2 separate regions of the Homo sapiens genome follow, and region 1 is linked to region 2. The links come from fine-mapping of genetic effects on gene expression. A gene starts in region 2. The other region holds a variant in brackets. All regions are shown on one strand. Distances are from middle to middle.

Region 1 (8,488 bases), 180 kb after region 2:
GCCAAGATCTGGGGGCAAAAGGCCTAGCTCCTGTGTCCAAGGGAACAGACCCCTTTTGCTCACAGAGAAGCACAGCCAGGGATTCTCGATGGGGCTCTGGGGACAAAGTTTGGCACATGGTGGGGATGAATTCTGATGAGCTGCTCTTCAAGGAACCACAGGCTTCCCGTCAAGGAATGAGGCCCCCGTCTCTAGAAGAATTTTAGCATGGCAAAACCAAGGCGATGGCAGTCAGGAGGGGGCTGAGCTGTCCCCCCCACGGTGGGGACAGACTCTGGGGGATGTGAGACCATGACCCAGACTTGGGCAGAAAGTGGCCCAGATACTCGGTTCCTGTTATTCATCCCAAATTGTGACAGAAATAGACCAGCTCCCCACCTGCCGCTCCCCCATTGCCTGTCCCCCAGGCCTCACCAGGCTCCAGTGGGGATAAAATTGGTAGCACTTGTTTGAGTGACATGTTTGTCTTCTAGCTTATGAGAAGCCTCTGAGTTATCTCAAGTTTTTCCTAAAACAACATTTTTCTCCATTTCTTAAAAAAAAGCAGAAGAAAAGAGATGATCTTATTTTATACAATATACCACCAGCCAGGGAGCAGAGCATCGGCAACACTTGAGGTTGCATAGCAACTGGCTTTTCAATTGATTTTTTGAGAAGGTACCAAAGCTACTCAACTGTTCTCATTTTAAATATTTCCTAGGATGATGAAAATCAAAGCAAATGGAAATCAGAGACTTGGGGAGCATCAGAGAAGGACATAAAGTGTCTTGTTATAAAAAACCAGGTCAAGACAAAGTGTGGAATGCTTGCTGGAATTTTTCAGCATTGGAGGTGAAAGGTCTGAGAAATTCTGCATGTGAGTCTCTTAGTGGAAAGCACGAGAAGAGAGGTGCTGGGGGTGGGGGCTTGGTGTGCCCACCCACCCACCTATAGGGTAGAGGATTTAGAGTGGCCCAGCCATGGTGCAGGAAGGCCAGGAAGTGAAGGTCTGGGGAGGATATATCAAGGGCCCTGGGGATCTGGGACAGGGGATGAGGTGGGAAACACACCCCATGCCTCACCCCAGGGACAGCCCCCTGTCCTCCTGAGCATCTGGGTCCCAACCCCCAACCTGATAGGGGTGCAAGGCATGATGGCCCACCCACATCATCCTCCATCCACCTCCTCACCCAGACCTACCTGGGTCCAGAGAACTAGGAGGCACTAAGGCTGGACACTGCCCTTGGGAGGTGCCTTAGTCTGTTTGGGCTGCAATAACAGAAATACCTTAGACTGAGTAATTTATAACCAATGGAATTGTGTTACTCACTGTTCTGGGGGCTGGGAAGTCCAAGAGCAGGACGCCAGCAGAACTGATGTGTCGTAAGGACCCATTCCTCCTAGAGGGCACCTTCTAGCTGTGCCCTCGCATGATGGAAGGGTGAACAGGCTCCCTCAGGCTTCTTTTGTAAGGGTGCTAATCTCATTTATGGAGACTCCACCCTCATGACCTAATGACCTCTCAAAGACCACACTTCCTAATACCATAACATTGGTTCTCAGCTTTCAACCTTTCAAATGTGGGGGACACAACATTCAGATTCTAGCAGGAGGCCCCTCTTCTGCCTCCCCACAGGCCTGCACTGGCTCATGCCTGGGAAGGCTCAAGTTGAGAATCCTGTTCTGGCAGCTTGGCTCTCTCTGGGAATAGCTTCCCAGGCTTTGGGGAAGATGGCTGGAAACAAAATGCTGGAACGATATGGGAGTTCTGGCAGAGAAATGAGGTGCACGCCTCCTGCCCCAGCTCTCGTGGTTCTCTGTCGTGATGAGATTTGATCTGTAAGCCCTGCCTGGAACAAGAGACCTCCAGCCTTGGGGGAGCCCACTTTGCACTCAGCTGGGGGGCACGGTAGAACATGTGCTCACAGAGCAGGGATGGTGGGACCTTGTCCCTGCCATTCATTCTGGCTTTGTCCATACTCGTGGGACCTTTGGTGAGCAATTTAACATCATGGGGCCTTAGTTTCCCCCATAAGAGGAGGTCTGTGAAACCCCAGCACACAACAGGAATGACGACAATCATAAAGGCGTTCGTGCAAGTGACTGTTTGTAGAGCTTCTTCTGGGACAGGCACCGTCTGAAGCCCTTTATGTGACTTTATGCCCTCACCCCCACAGCAACCCTGTGGAGTAGGCGCTGTGATCATCCCCATTTGACAGTGAGGACCCTGGCTCCAGGGGGCGAGCGGCCTGCCCGGGGCCACACGCTGGTGGAGCCACTCTGCTCTGGGAGGAGGGGCTGGACTCTGTGATCCCGGCTGGTCAGGAGCACCAGCTTCAGGCTCCTTGTCCTGGTCCCCTGAGGGTCAGTTGCTCCCAACCAAGAGTGACTTTGCCACCCCTCCCCCCACCCGGGGGACATTTGGCAGTGTCTGGAGAGACTTTTGGTTGTCACGACTAGGGGGAGGGTTCCACTGGGTTCTGGCAAGGAGTGCCCAGGGGTGTGCTCAACATCCTGCCATGAACAGGGTGCCCGCCTCACCCAACAGGAATTATCTGGCCCCAAATATCTGGAGTGCTGAGGTTGAGAAATGTGGTCTGCTCACCAGAACCCAACCTCCCTGCTGTCCTATCCTGCACCTGTTTAGGAGGCTGGTCTGAGGCAGGAGGGCCCCTCTGGGATGGGGACGGTTGAGAAGCTTTGCTGAAGCCGCATCCCCTTGGGGGCATGAGCCAGCCCCAGCGGGTAGGCCAGTCCCCAGGGACTGGTGTTATACTCCATCAGTATCAACAGCACGGCAGAGACAAGGACAAGGGACATTTGTGGGCGCTGACTGCACCCTGCCTGAACTGTCATGGGCGGAAGCCCCCCAGCTCCAAGCTCGGAGCTGCAGTTGTGCCCATTTTGCAGGTGGGGACAAGTAAGGTAACTTGCCCAAGAACAGAGCAGATGAGATATTTCGGCCGGGCCTAGAGCTGCCCAGGTGACCTCACCTGCCACCTGCAGTGGACTTGGTGAGCCTCGGTCGCGTGGCGGCCTGCGGGGCTGGCTGAGTGCGCCTTGCCCAGCAGGCAGAGCCTCCTGGCGGGGCGGGCGCGGTTCCAGCGGAGGCGGCCTCCAGGCTGCTGATCCCCATCCCGGTTTCCTCCCACGTCTCCTTGACTGAAGGAGGGAAGAGCATAGATAATTCAGCTCCTTCCAGAGCAAACAATGGAAATGTCGGAGAGCAACGATTGGAACAGAACTTTTTGCTCAGGTCATAATTGATGTATTTAGGGTGAGGCCCAGAGGCTGTCTTGGGGCCGCTGGGGCCCCGGGAGCCCGGGTGCGGCCGCGGAGTCTGGGCGCCGGGTGCGTCCCCGGCCCGGGCCGCTGTTCTCGCGGCAGCAGCGCCACCTGGTGGCCGCTCGGGCCCGGCCCTTCCTCTGCCCGCCCCGCGCGGGGGGCAGCACCCCGACCTCTTTCCGGCTGTGGGACTCAGGCGAGTCCTTTCAGTTGTCTGAGACGCAGTTCGTCATCCGGAAGGTAGGAAAATGAAGTGGAAGCGAGGTGTCGTGTGCCAAGCCTGAGCCTAGCGGGGCGCTCCTTGCGGACGGTGACTTCCTGCTGGGGTCAGCATCTGCCGGGGCGGCCCTTTGGGCTCACTTCCCCAGGCCTCCCGAGAACGTCCCCGCAGCCGGCGCCTCCCTCCCTGCCCAGCCTGGCTCCTGAGGGTGCTCGTGTTCATTCCTTCATCACTGAGCGCCCAGCAGCCGGGGTCCTCTGGCCGCGTTCGCTGC[C/G]TCATCCTGGCATGGAGAGCAGAAGCCGGGATTGCTCCGTGAAGGGAGGAGTGGGGCTACTGAGGGCAGGCGTGGGCCAGGGCTGGGGCACAGACTCGGGCCCAGCAACCACCCGGCCCTCAAGGAGCTTAGGCTTTAGTGACTCAGAGGCCAGCGACAGCAACAGGCACATCCCCAGTAGGTGCCCCATCTGGCAGGTGACCGATCGCACGCAGGAGGAGGGACCCGGCGGGCAGCTCAGAGCCAGGGTCCCGCGGCCAGGATGGGGCTGGGACTTGGAGCTGGACGCAGCCTACTCGTCCACCCAAGGCCCACGGGCCCCCTAAGCTCCTGGCTGTTCCCTGAGGCCCGTGGGGTTACCCAGACCCCTGCAGGCTGGGCCTGAGGTTCAGGGGCCCGCAGTGTTTCCTCACCCTTGCCCTGGCCAAGCCTCCTGACAGCCCTGGGGAGCATTCAGCAAAGTGACCTTCTGACCCAAGGTGAGGGCCATCAAGCTCTTGCCTCCCTAAGGCCCTCAGATCTGCCCTCTCCACCTCATGGTGGGATCCCTGGGTCTTTCAGGCATGTCCTCAGACCCTTTCCAGCCCGGGCCAGGGGAGCCAAACAGGCTGAACCCGGAGGAAACACCATCCTTCTTGGGACCAGGCTCCCGGTGCTGCTGTGGGAGGGCCCCAGGGGCCTGGACGAGTGTCTGCCTCCTGCATCTGGGCAGCTCTGTGAACCAGCATAGCAAGGAGGGTCTCCATGTGGACATAGGTGGGCACTCATGATGGCCAAGGAGGACCCTGCACTCTGGAAGAGCCAGCCTGGTCCAGGGCCCCAGAGCACTCGGGCAGTGGAGCCCAGTTGGGAGCCCATGTCTGCAGTGGTCGATGTCACCTCCAAACAGGGGTGGCAGAGCCCTCCATGAGGGGTGACGACTGTCCTGGGGCCCCTGTAGAGGATCCGATCAGCCTCTTGGAAGCTCATCTGTTCCCGTGCTCTGAGCTAGGGTCAGCCCACTCAGGACTCCTCCTGCATCCTGGGCTGGATGGGCCCCTGGACTTCATCCACAGCCCTACTGCAGGCTTCTCCCGCCTGGCTCTTCTGGGGCCCTAGGCTGGACCTGGGAGTTCTGGGAGCTGCTGCCGCTGTGAAGAGTCTGCCCTCAGAGGCCCTGCCTCACTCAGGAGGTGGACCCTGCAGCTACCATGCAGCCCCAGGGCCTCGAAATGTCCATCCCCGGTCATACAGCACCATCTACCGCCCCCTGCTCTGGAGGCTGGGTGCCCGCGGCTGCCCCTGGGAGGGACTGGCTGCCCTGTAAAGTCCCTGGCTGGTCCTGCAGCCACCCCCTTTGCAGAGCCCAGGGTGCTACGGCTCACTCCTGGTCCCCCCCTCAGCACAGCTAGGAACAGGTGGAGTCACACAGACAGACTTTCCTAGAGGAGCCGTGCAGAGCCGAGCAGGCAGCTGGAAGTCAGGTGCATTCAGGACTGGGAGGGACGTAGATGACCAGGGCGAGCTGGTGAAAGACTCCTCAGTGGAAACAAGCAGTGCAGCCTCCCTCACTTCTGGAGGAGATCCATATATGAGAAATGTGTCTTCTTCTCGCTCAGGGGAAGCACAGTTCCCAGGCTTGATACATAGCAAGGGCACAGGATGGTGGGGGCTGGGGTGCCCCAGGCAGCAGGGACCCATCTGGCCTCCTGCATGCAGGCCAGGTGGCAGAGGAGCAAAGGAGGTCGCATCCCAGCAGGTGGTCCCGCTGGAGCCCAAGTGACCCACAGGGGAGTTCACTGCATGTCAGGACAGTATCCTTGGCTGGAGGTCTCAGCGGAGAGACCTGAGCTTGGCTCTTCCCTTGGGTTCCGACTGCCTCCAGTAGCGAGGGCCTTGCCCTGTCCACGGCCAGCCCAGACTTCCCTCCTGGGCCGCAGACCTGTCCAGCTGCCCCGATGTCTCTGCCTGGACATCAGTTTCTTTCTGTGAGGAGTCCTTAGAGGCATGCAGAACCCAAGGCTGCCTGTAGCTCTCATGGAGTGGGAGGAGTGGGTGGAGGAAAGGGGGCTCTGGGGTGCATGAGCCTGAGTTTGCGGATGGTTGTTTTGGGTGCTGCCACCAGGCAAACCCACTTCAGCCAGTTTTCAGTCCTTTCGAACCTGTGCTCCATGGGCCTAACATGGGTCCCAGCTACGGCTTGGGACTGATCACCCACAAGGGCTGCACCCCCAGAAGTGGGAGAGCTCCCAAAGCAAAACAGCCCAGCTCTTCCCAACGAGCAAGCTGGCCAGGAAAGACATTGCCGTGACCATGTTTCCTGCACTGCGGACCCCACGCTCTTCCTCTGGCACTTGCCGTCCCCTTCCCGCGCCGCCTCTTCTGCCTTGCTACCAATCCCCAAAGCCAGACACTGGTGCCGTCTCTGCCTCATTGCTCCCGCCCTGCAGCCCTGATGCCTCTCAGCTCCTGCCACCAGGTCCTGACCCTCCTGACGTGGCACCAGCCACACCTGCATGCATCTCAGTGCCACACTGTCCCCTTCTATCCCCACTCCTTCCTCACTGACCCAAAGGGCTGTTTTAAGAATGCACACAGACCTTGCCCTGGCCTCTGGGCACAAGGTCAATGTCTGGGCCTCATGGGTACCCCATAGCCCTTGAATGCTCCAGACCCAGCAAGGACAAGATCTCTGCCCCTGGGCTCCTCTGTGCCCGTCAGAGATAGGCTGGGACCTTGGAGATGTTGGGACGTTGGCAGAGAGAGAGAGGAAGCACAAGCAGCTCTGTGGCTTGTCAGTTAAGCTCCCAGTGGCAGGTTGAGTCCTGGGGTGCCCGGACACTGAGGTAACCCTCTCCTCTACTTCTTGGGGTACCCCCTGCTGGGACCCAGGCTCCCAGGGTCTAGCACACTCTCATGTCTCCTGAAGTCCTGCCTCCCAGGGCTCCCCTGGCCCCAGTGCAGCTTCCCCTCCCTGTGCCCATGCACCCCAGCCCTCCCCTCTGCCCCCTCCTCAGGGAGTCTCCTCAGAACCCCAAAGCCAGAAGGGGGTCATAGACCCCTTTAGCTCTGGACCCTGCAGCACAACCTCCTTGGGGTTGGAGAACGAAAGTGGCAGGCTGCCTTCTTGGACTGGGCCGAGAACAAAGCGAGGCAAGAACAAAAACACAAATCAATATTTCAATAAATTGTCTTGCCGCAGCAGCAAGATCACTTTGGCTGCTAAGACGGGCTGGGAACCCAGGCTGAACCACAGAAGCCAGCATCTGGGAGGAGAGAGGTGATCGGCCAGAGTGGATCCAGTCTGCAGGACGTGGAGAAGGGGCTGCCCACTGCAGGGCTCTTATTCCAGGGTTCTGGAATAAAGTGGTGACGGGGAGGATGCGTTGTTTTGTCTGCATAACTGATTTCAATTTGAGCCAGTGTTTACTATTAGGTAGGTGTCTGTAGAATCCAGATTTCACGATTGACCTGAGAAATCTGATCCAGCAGCTCTGGGCCTCTGTTCCTGCCAGCACTGGGCGGATGTTGCTCCCTTCAGCTGTGCCTGGGCACCTGGGTTTGCCACAGTCCTCGCCACTCCTTATCACCGACCCCCACTCTATTCTAATAGGGAAATATTCCTCTGTACCCTTTCTCCTTCAAAACTGGGAAAACACAAGATGGACTTACTTTTCGTGCAACCAGCCTGCCTCATTGACTTGTCACCTGCCTTGCTCCTGTAGGCGCTTGGGTTTCTAGCATCCTCCCGGTACTCCCCACAAGCCCACACACTAGGATAGCGGACCTCCCTGCACACCCCCAGCCTGCCTCAGCCTGGCTCCTCCCGCAGCTCTGTCCTACACACTAGCCTCATTCCTGCCTCTGGTCCTGATATTGGGGCATGTCTTTCTGGCTGGACTCTTGACTCCTCCTCAAAGACTTGGCCAGGGCCCTTCTCCCACTGAGAAGCATATAAACTGCCCCCAGAACATATCAGCTGCCCCCAGATCAGACGCCATCTTTCATGGGCCAGCGAGTGTCCTGACTGGGGTCCCTGTGGTCCCCCAAAGGAGGAAGCACGTGGCTCAGATTCTCTTCGCTGCAAGTGACAAGAGCACAACTCAGAATTGGCTTTCACAAGGAGAGGAACTTCTTCAGGCATAAATGACACCCGTCAGTGGCAGGCAGCCTTCGTGATGGCCGCCAGTGACCCAGTCTCTTAATGTCCATGCCCTGCGGTAGGCGGGACTGAGATTCTATCAAAAGCAGACTGTGGCTTCTGTAGGGGAGGTGCCTTCTCTTGTTGTCTCTTGGGTCCCTCGAGCAGGGGCGACCGTGTGGGGTAAAGCTGACATGGGTGACGGCCCCAGGAGGGGCCCATACGGTATGGTGTGCAACAGCTCAGCTGGGGCCCGCCGTGACCACCTGAATGAGCCTGGGAGCTGACCCGCCTCCGGTACAGCCTTCAGATGAGACTGCAGCCCCAGTCTTAGCTCGACAGTGGTCTCATCCTCCTTTAATCCTTGGTGGGGGGTCTCCTGTAGTGCAGGGGGGCTCCAGCCGCTGCAGGCCCCCCACCTCACACCTTGCCTACTCCTTGGCCCGCTTTGGTTGTATGTTCACCCTGATCCTTCATGGTGGCCAGGAAGGCGTGGTGCTGGGATTGGCCAGGCCTGCCTGCCCCTGAAGCCTGGGGTCTGACTCAGATTAAAGGAGGGGAAGTTTCACGAAAGGGAAACAAGGGCAGGCAGAAGTCACCGCAACCCACC
Region 2 (8,488 bases):
GAGGGTGACCTAAAGGTAATGAAGCCCCAGAGGCCAGGGATCCTGGGGATCTAGCAAGGCCTGGGCTGGGGTCACCGATGGCTTTCCTCAAAATCTAGGAAGTAAGGAAGCGTCCAGACAGGCTTAGAAAAGGCTTTGAACACAGATCTCCATAATGTAATAGAACTGGGCCCTTCACTAGTTACCTACAGGATTTACATAAAAAGAAAGGAATTCTGCATGCTGTACAGATGGTGTAGTATAGGAGTGGGACACAAATATAGCGTCACATGGGAAAAACTTCTTTTGCCAGGCAGGAGGATGCCTGGGACTATGCAATACTCTGATTTGGAAATAAAGACAGAAGGCAATGCTGGGGGCACTGGGGTAGACGCGATGGTTAATCCAGGTTTGTCCCAGTCATCCCTTCACCCACCGCCTGTCAGCAACTGGTTCAGCAAATGACCCAGCCTTGGCCCACAGACCACAGGGGAGACAGCGGTCCTTCTGGGAGAGGGCAGTGCACCTGTGCTTTGGCCATCCTTCTACCTGGTTGGGGCAAAGATGCTAGGCAGGCAGCAGGGCCCTTGGTGCTGCGGTTAAGCTCCGTGGCCACCACACCTGTAGACTTCCGGGTGCGTGAGCTGATGCATTTCCTCATGGTTTAAGCTGGCTGTCTTACTTGCAGCCAGGAGCATCCTGAGGGACCCAAAGGCCTTTCCCAGATGAGGGGGCTGGACAAAATGGCCCCCGACCCCAGACAGGGGCCAGACACAGGTGAACCCAGAGATTTAGACCCCAGCTCAAGTGGCGTCACTGCCTGACACACCCAGATAGCCCCTTTAAAATTTTTCTCTGTTCTCTCTGCTAGGCTGAGCATATGTGTAAGTGGACAATCACAGATAGGCATTAAGCTACATCCTTCCCTGGGCCATTAATGCTTAGACTGAGTCTGAGTCTCCATCTTGCATCTCCATGTAGAAATGTTAACTGAGCCCTGATCCCCAAGCCTCCAAACCTCAAGCACTTTGTCTTCCACTTCCAGGCAGAATCGATCTCAGTGGCGAGGGGATGCCTCCGTGCTGCAATGGCAGTAAAAACAATTGCTACTGAAACACCACCCACGTTTCCTCTTTTGCTGGACACGGCTCCCTATTAAAGTGTGTACATGGCGTCGGGGAGGGGCACGCTCAAGAAACAGCAAGAACCACACTTCCTAGAGGCCACCCAGCCTCCACATTCTGTTCAATCAGCATTCCCTTGACATATGGCTCACCAGGGCCACTCCCGGCCAGAACTCCGCCAGAGCATCTGATGGGACCACTGCACCCGCTGTTTGCCAACAGCAAAGTTGGACAGAGCTGCTGTCCTCAAGGCCCCTCGACAAGGTAACTAGCCCCTCATGCTTGGCCCGCTCTGCACACAGGCACCAGTGAGACTAAAAGAGTCCAGCTCCTTTCCCACAGCCCCTAAGAGCTTGTTTGTCATTAGGGAGGGCACTGAAACCTCACTGCCTCCATCTGCTTGGCAGGTTGTGCCAAGAAAGGTGACTTTGTCAAAGGGCAGGAGACCTTCTCAGGGGCTGGTTTCTGTGCAGACATTAGGAGACAGCAGTGGCTCTCAAATGGGCTCCTGTCTTTAATGAAGTCTGTGCTGACAAATGTGACCTGGAAGCCTGAGCCAGACCAGGGAGCCCGACCCTCCTCTCAGGGCAAGGCAGGGCACCCACCCACTGAGAGCTGTGGTGGGCAACAAACATTCCTCCTCCTTAGTGTTTCTTCTGCCAGGGATGTGGGGTGACTCGTGGCACCCAAGATGACCCGGAAAGGTCCTCACCTCTTTCTGCACCACACAACTTTGGGAAGATTTTAAGGGGGTTGGGTGTGTAAGGCCCGAGCTGACGCTGACTTGTCCTCACTCCTCCCTACAAACACTGGGCTTCTCGGTGAGGGTGACAACTCCAGGTTTTCAGGGATCATGGTGCTGACAATCACGAGCAATAGGCAGGTGTAGGGCAACAGGGGGTGGTGAGGACTGCGGTAAGCTGGAGAGCACAGCCAGACCTGAAGACATTCAGGCTCCAGTAGAAACGAACGCACGTGGCATGTGCTCAACAACACATCCGGCGGCGTTGGCCCAGTGGCCCTTAGTTTTTGTCGTTGGGACCTAGACTGAACATGCAGAGGAGCAGAGAGCCACTGGGGACTTCTATGTCCCGTATTTTACCTGGAAGAGGAAAAGGGGGACCAGAGAAAGAGGCAAACACCAGTAAGGGGGGAGAGGCAAGATTTGAATCATGGAGGTTTGAAGAAGTAGCAAGATTTTTGTTGTTGTTCTTTGGTTGTTTTTTGTTTTTCTGTTTGTTTCTGAGTGGAGGACAAATGATCACGGGCTGGGATGTGTCTGCAAGTCTCCTCCACCTCCCTGAGGGTTTAACTGTGAAGTTAGGTGCATGTGAGCCTTGTTCATCCACCACCCTGGTGGGTGACAGTGGGGGCACTAAAGGAAGGGCCAGGCAAGGGTGCTGCTCCATCCCCAACTCATCCCTGGTGGCAGGGGCACGGGTGATGTGGGAAGAATCAGCTGCCTGGGGTTATTCAGTGTCCAGGAGACAAATTCTTTCCCCCAAAAATATCCCAAAGCAAGTATCCCAAAGTATACAAAATAATTTAGCTCTGTGAACCTGTTAGAAGATGCCATCAACTCATAAAGTCAGAGTTACTCCTTTTCAGGCCTCCTTTCATCCTTCCAATCACATCAGAACAACGACCTCTGTGCTAGTCCATCTTAAGGCTTTTGTAACACTTACTAATCAGCTTCAGCCTTCGGTATCTTTAGCAGGTCAAAGTATCTGGAATTTGATAACATTTCTCTTCTTGTTGTATTTATTTTTAGCAATTATCTTTGATTTATGGAAACATGGTGAGATGCTGGCTTTTCCATTTATAGTAGTGATTTAAAGTATCCTTTAAAAAATTGAAAAAAGTTTTAGGCGCTGTGTAAAGAAATACCCAACCATAGACACGGCAGGAAGGTGCAGAACATGCCCCTTGAAGTAGGGGCGGCTGCTGGTTGGGTTTCACTCGTGTTTCGAAGAGGATGGAAGCGCTGACAACCACAGGAGGAATGCGTCATGGGTTCCAGGACAGCAACTGGCTGGACCCAACTCTGGGCTGCCTAGCTCCCCCAGCCTTCACAATTCAACTCATGCCACCTCTTACAGGAAGTCCTCCTGGATGCCCAGCTCTGGAGTCATCTCTGTGGTATACTAGGATTCCAGTTCCAACTTTCTCTGGAACCAGTTGGGTCATCACAGGTCACGAGAGCAGATGCCTACAGAGAGTGAGGAGAGGCGGGACCTGCCACAAACTGCAAGGTAAGTGCCCATTTAATGGTTGCTAAGCAGGACTGTGGGGCTAGCGTGGCCACATCTTCCAATATCTCAAGAAAAGTTACCAATCTAAATTTCCATGTGACATCTCACCATGCCTGGGAGCTGGATCCAGCCTCGGGCACCCTTAGGTGACACAGAAAGAGTACAGCTTGCAGGTGAAGATGGCTGTCCAGCTGCGATGCTCTCACACCCAGGACCCACAATCGAAAGAACCAAGGACGTGAGATCACAGTTAGAGCCTGCTGTGTAAGTCGTGTTTCCCCCAACGACTGGGACCTCCTGGCCAGCAGGGAGAGGCCTGAGTCATCTCCGGGTCCTCTGCCCCTGGCCAAAGCAAAGACCAAAGCCCTGGCCACACAGACCTGGGGCAGGGCAAATGAGAAAATCAAAGGGGTGGGTGTTCACCCTCTGGGGAAGTGAGGCAGAAATTGGGGGTCCCAGGGCAGAGATGATCAACAGCCTGAGAGGGGGCTCTCAGGCAGGCCCTGGAGAGAGGCCGCTGAGCTCAGACAGCATGGGAGGATCAGGGCCTTGCTGGAGAGGAGGGACTGGGGAGGGGTTCCGGTTGGCAACGGGCTCTAACAGCAAACTGGCCCCAGAATGGGCCCAGGTGTCCTTGGATGCTTGGGTGGAAAAGGTAGGCAGAGCTTGGAGAGGCCATTTCAGGTTGGGGGCCGGGAGTGCAATGGCGGGAGGACAGAATGCATACGTGGGGTTGAGGACAGGTGAGGGCAGGAGCCTGACTGTGCTCATGGGCAGAGAGCCCAGGTCTGGCAGGAAGAGGCTGTGCTGAGGCTGCAGCGGAGGGATGGGAAGGCAGATGGGGGACAGGGGACAGGGACTTCAGAGGAAGAGGAACTGGGGACTGAAGGAGCCTTGCCTCTCTCAGTAAGGGCAAAAGTTGATCTTTGGGGTCGCGCCCTGGGTGTACCCTCCTAACAGCATCTTCTGGCCTTTGCGGCCTCTATTTGGGCATTCGGCCTGGCTCAGACCTTGGACCCAGTAGTCAGTCCCCCCTCCCCTTTCATTCCCTCACCCTGTCCTGCCCCAGAGCACAGAGACAGGGGGATGCACCCCTTGAATTCCAGGGCTGATGGGTGGGACCCGGCACCCCAAGGGCTCTCTAGGTGGGGACGTTCGGCCGGCGCCGCTCCTCGGAGGTTGTGCCCCTGGGGTGGCTGGCGGCGGGGCTCCCCCGGCCCGGCCCGCGGCGCTTCTCTGCCGCCGCCTCGGGGTGTCTCTGCTTCGCTGCGAGCCCGGCACCGCGGCGACGGCGGCGCGAAGAGGGAAGCGGGCGGCGGCGGCGGCCGCGCCAAGATGCGCCGGGTCACCGCAGGCTGAGGCGCCCGCCGTCCCCGCCCTCCCCCTCGCTCGCCTCCCTCCCTCCCGCCTGCCTCCCTCGCTCGCTCGCTCCTTCCCTCTCCCCGCCTTCCCTCCGCGCTCCCCCGCCCGCCCCTCCGCGCCTCGCCTCCTCCGCCCCGCGCCCTGCGGTGCTGCAGCTGCGGGCGGCTCCAGCTGCCCCCAGATGTGGGCTGGGCGGCTCGCGGGGAACTTTCGCGCCGGCTGCGAGTGCGGGGCCCCGGCTGCAGTCCGGCTGCCATGGATCCGCCGGCGGGAGCCGCTCGCCGCCTGCTCTGCCCCGCGCTGCTGCTGCTGCTGCTGCTGCTGCCGCCGCCGCTCCTGCCGCCGCCGCCGCCGCCCGCGAACGCCAGGCTCGCCGCCGCCGCCGACCCCCCAGGTAGGTGCGGCCCGGCCCCTACTCCCCGGGACCCCCGCCGGCCTGGCCCTGTCCCGCGTGCCCCGCCGCCCCCTCCCCAGGCGTCGTCCAGCCTGACTTGGGCAAACTCCGCGCGCCCCGCCCGGGGCCAAGTTGGCCAACTTCGGGGCCGGGTTGGTCGCGCAGGGGGCGCCCCGCACCGCCCCCGAGCGCCTTGGGCCGGGGGAGCCTCGGAGCACTGGCGGCTCCTGAGTCGCGGAGGGTGGGGACGGAGGGCCGGGAAAAGCCCCGCGGCCAAGAGCGCAGAGTCAGCCCCAGCGGGTCCGAGGGGGGAGCCAGGGCGAGGCGGCGCCGGGGCTCGCGTCCGGGGACGCTCCGGAGGAGCCGGCTGCCGAGCGCGTAGCCTTGGGCCCTAAGGATTGGTTGGGGCGCCCCGCAGGGAATCCCCGGAGATCGGAGGGACCCTGTTCCACCCCTCCCAGTCCTCGGGCGCTCGGGGAGACGGGGCCGGCAGCGGGCTGAGCGGGAGCTGGACAGGCAGGACAGGCCGCTCGTGCTCGGGGAAGCCGAGACTCCGCCGCTCCGGAGGCTGGCGGTGAGGGCACTCGGGCGGCAGGGGCCCGCCGAGGGGTCGTGGCACACGGGTAAGGGGGCCAACCCGGAATGGCTTCCGAGCAGCTCCACGTCCTGCCAAGGACGGTAGGTGCAAGGGTCGGGGGACTCTCTGACGGGGTCGTCCCTTCGGGCACGGGGAGGTTCCCACCGAGCCCCAACCCTGAACGGGGCAGGGGGCAGAGCTCTTGGCAGGCAAGGTCTCCGGAGGAGGGAACGGCTGGGGAGTGGCGGAGCCCCGGAGTGGTGGCCCTGTTAACGCCCCTTCCCGGTTGCAGGAAAGCCGGGGAGGTGCAGGCTGGCTTCTGGGGTCGCCTGGCGGAATGCCCCTTCCCTTCGCAGTGGGGCGGGGTCTGGGGGGGCGTGGCTTGCCGGCGGGTCTCTGAGGCACTGGGGCTCCGTGGTCTCCGCCGATCTAACGCCCCTTCCCGTTGCAGGCGGGCCCCTGGGGCACGGAGCGGAGCGCATCCTGGCGGTGCCCGTGCGCACTGACGCCCAGGGCCGCTTGGTGTCCCACGTGGTGTCGGCAGCTACGTCCAGAGCAGGGGTACGAGCCCGCAGGGCCGCCCCGGTCCGGACCCCGAGCTTCCCCGGAGGCAACGAGGAGGAGCCTGGCAGTCACCTCTTCTACAATGTCACGGTCTTTGGCCGAGACCTGCACCTGCGGCTGCGGCCCAACGCCCGCCTCGTGGCGCCCGGGGCCACTATGGAGTGGCAGGGCGAGAAGGGCACCACCCGCGTGGAGCCCCTGCTCGGGAGCTGTCTCTACGTCGGAGACGTGGCCGGCCTAGCCGAAGCCTCCTCTGTGGCGCTCAGCAACTGCGATGGGCTGGTGAGTACGCACTTCTCTAGCTCCTTTCTCTCCGCTGCTCTCGCCTGGGTTTTGGAAAAGGGTTACCTGGGAGTCCCTTGGGAGGGCAAGGCCTGCGCTGAGGACTTTCCGCGCCCTTCCCGTGCTTTAGTGAGCCTCGTGCTCCAACTGAAGGGCTTGGCTGGAAAGCAGGTTGTTTTGACTGGTCTGAGCAGGGGGCCATTTATGCATGGGGAGCGCCCGGGTCTCCAAAAGGCTCAGCAGGCAGGAGCGTGCGCCTCTCTCTTTTGCCTGCCTGAACAGGTCTCTGGCTTGCATCCGGGGGTGGGTCCGTGTATGTGTGTGTACCTTTGTGAGTGTGTGCACATGTGTTGTGGAACGTTGGTGTGTACCTGCATCTGGGTGCCCGTGCACCTGTGTGAACATGTGCGTGTGCCAGTGTCTCTTGTGCACGTATGTGTCTGGGTTTCTGCACATCAGTGTGTTGAGCATCTGTTGAGTTTGTGTCCGTCCTTGTGCATACTGGCGTGATATGTGTGTGGTGGACTTATGGGCTGGCAGTCAGTCTTCCTGTTTCCTTGCGTGCGGGTAATACCAGCCCAGGGAGCTGGCAGTGATGCTGAAATGCCCAGTTAGCCCTCTGCCCCTTGGCTGACCGGGAATCATTGGTTTTTCTGCTGTGGTTTCCTGTTGAACTCCAGCTGGTTCTTTGAAAAGTTGGTTTTCTCTATTTTGAGCTGAGGGGTGCATTTGGAAATGAAGGCTCTAGTGCCCATGAGCTGCTCGATCTTTTGGGGGCAGCGCCTGAAGGACAAGAGAGAGGCTAGGGGATCCCTTTTGAGACTGCCTGCGCCTCTCTAGTCCTGTGACTGGAGCTCTGGGAAGCTCTGCTTCCTGGAGAGGGCAGGAGGGACCGTGGCTCAGCACAAGGGGGCCTCAGAGGAAGCCTGGATCGATGCTGAGGGAGGAGGCTGACATTGGCGGTGCTCTGTCCGGCTGCCCGGGGCCTGGCACACAGCAGAGGCCACTGCAGTTTTCTATTTTGGATTGGGTGTGTGGTGGTCAGGCTGGCTGTGCTGGCCAGACATCTGAAGCCGCCCACCATGGGTTCCGCTCTAATTGCTACTCAGGGAACTCCTGCCCCGAGTGAGTGGCCACTCTCCCAGCCCCCGTGGCCCCTGAGCACGCCCGTACTCGGGCAGCTGAGGCTCATCCTACAGTCTGCAGAGCCGGCAATTACACCAGGGCTCTGCAACCACTGTCATTCTTTTTATGGAGACACAGAAAATATCACTTGTTGCTTTGGAAAATCACTGCCTTTGGCTGGATTTAGTTAGAACTTGGCCATATTGCAAACAACTGTAAATATCCCTGGAGGAGCTGGGTTAAAATGGTGAGCCCTTGACATCGCCCACTGTCTCTGAGGACATCCTGGGCCTCAGAGGTGTGTCCCATTTTACGCTGGAGGTTAATTTCCTAAATGAAAGGAGATGTTTGCTGCGGACTTAGGGTGAGGTAAGGTGGTGGGAGTTGACATGGGGTTGCAGTCTGTTGGTGGGCCAACACCTGTGTACTATGCATTCCTGATGGAGAGCATTTTGGGGAGGACTTGTCACTGTTTCATTCATTCAGCAGTTCATTTGGTGATTCATTTTTCAGCCAGCACCTTCTCATATGTTTATCCCCTGTACTGGTCAGCAATGAGGCAGGTCTGGTACCCACCCAGGGCTCCTGTCGTCAGGGTGGCTGACGGACACTCTGGCCAGGACTTGGAGAGTGTGCTCCTGGGGGGCTGTTTGAATGGGGGCTGGAAGAATGAGTGGCCAGCTGGAAAAGACGCAGGTTGGCAACCCGGGCAGAGGGAGGAGCGTGTGCAGAGGTACCAGGTGTGGATTGGCCTGGGCAGGACAGGCCTGCTGAAGTGTCCCATGTACCAGACAGAGCTGGGAAGAATATTGGGGTTGGAAGAGGAGCT

Which allele goes with the higher level. Positions count from the first base shown, and alleles are read on the strand shown. Sizes are in standard deviations (SD) of each study's normalised expression.
For the expression in nucleus accumbens of the gene that starts at base 4,840 in region 2, C is the low allele of the variant in region 1 and G is the other (large effect, 0.92 SD a copy in GTEx).

Evidence for each region. PIP is the estimated chance that this variant, and not a neighbour inherited with it, causes the effect.
Region 1: its variant is fine-mapped to the expression of ADAMTS2 in nucleus accumbens (GTEx, PIP above 0.99). The same link has a PIP of 0.9 or more in anterior cingulate cortex, hippocampus and putamen.

The regions. Positions count from the first base shown.
Region 1 is chr5:179,162,169-179,170,656 of GRCh38, reverse strand. The region is part of intron 5 of ADAMTS2 (ADAM metallopeptidase with thrombospondin type 1 motif 2); the gene reads left to right. Among named protein-coding and RNA genes, the nearest start is that of ZNF354C, 110 kb to the right of the region's middle. RefSeq lists a silencer at 3,245-3,454 and an enhancer at 3,068-3,569. The variant C/G (reference allele first, on the strand shown) is at 3,759.
Region 2 is chr5:179,341,813-179,350,300 of GRCh38, reverse strand. ADAMTS2 (ADAM metallopeptidase with thrombospondin type 1 motif 2) reads left to right here and starts at 4,840. Exons shown (of 22, transcript NM_014244.5): 1 at 4,840-5,111; 2 at 6,140-6,534. The coding sequence starts at 4,973. It overlaps LOC105377759 (a long non-coding RNA gene), which reads left to right and starts at 1,046. Exons shown (of 3, transcript XR_941311.3): 1 at 1,046-1,367; 2 at 3,203-3,355; 3 at 3,522-3,940.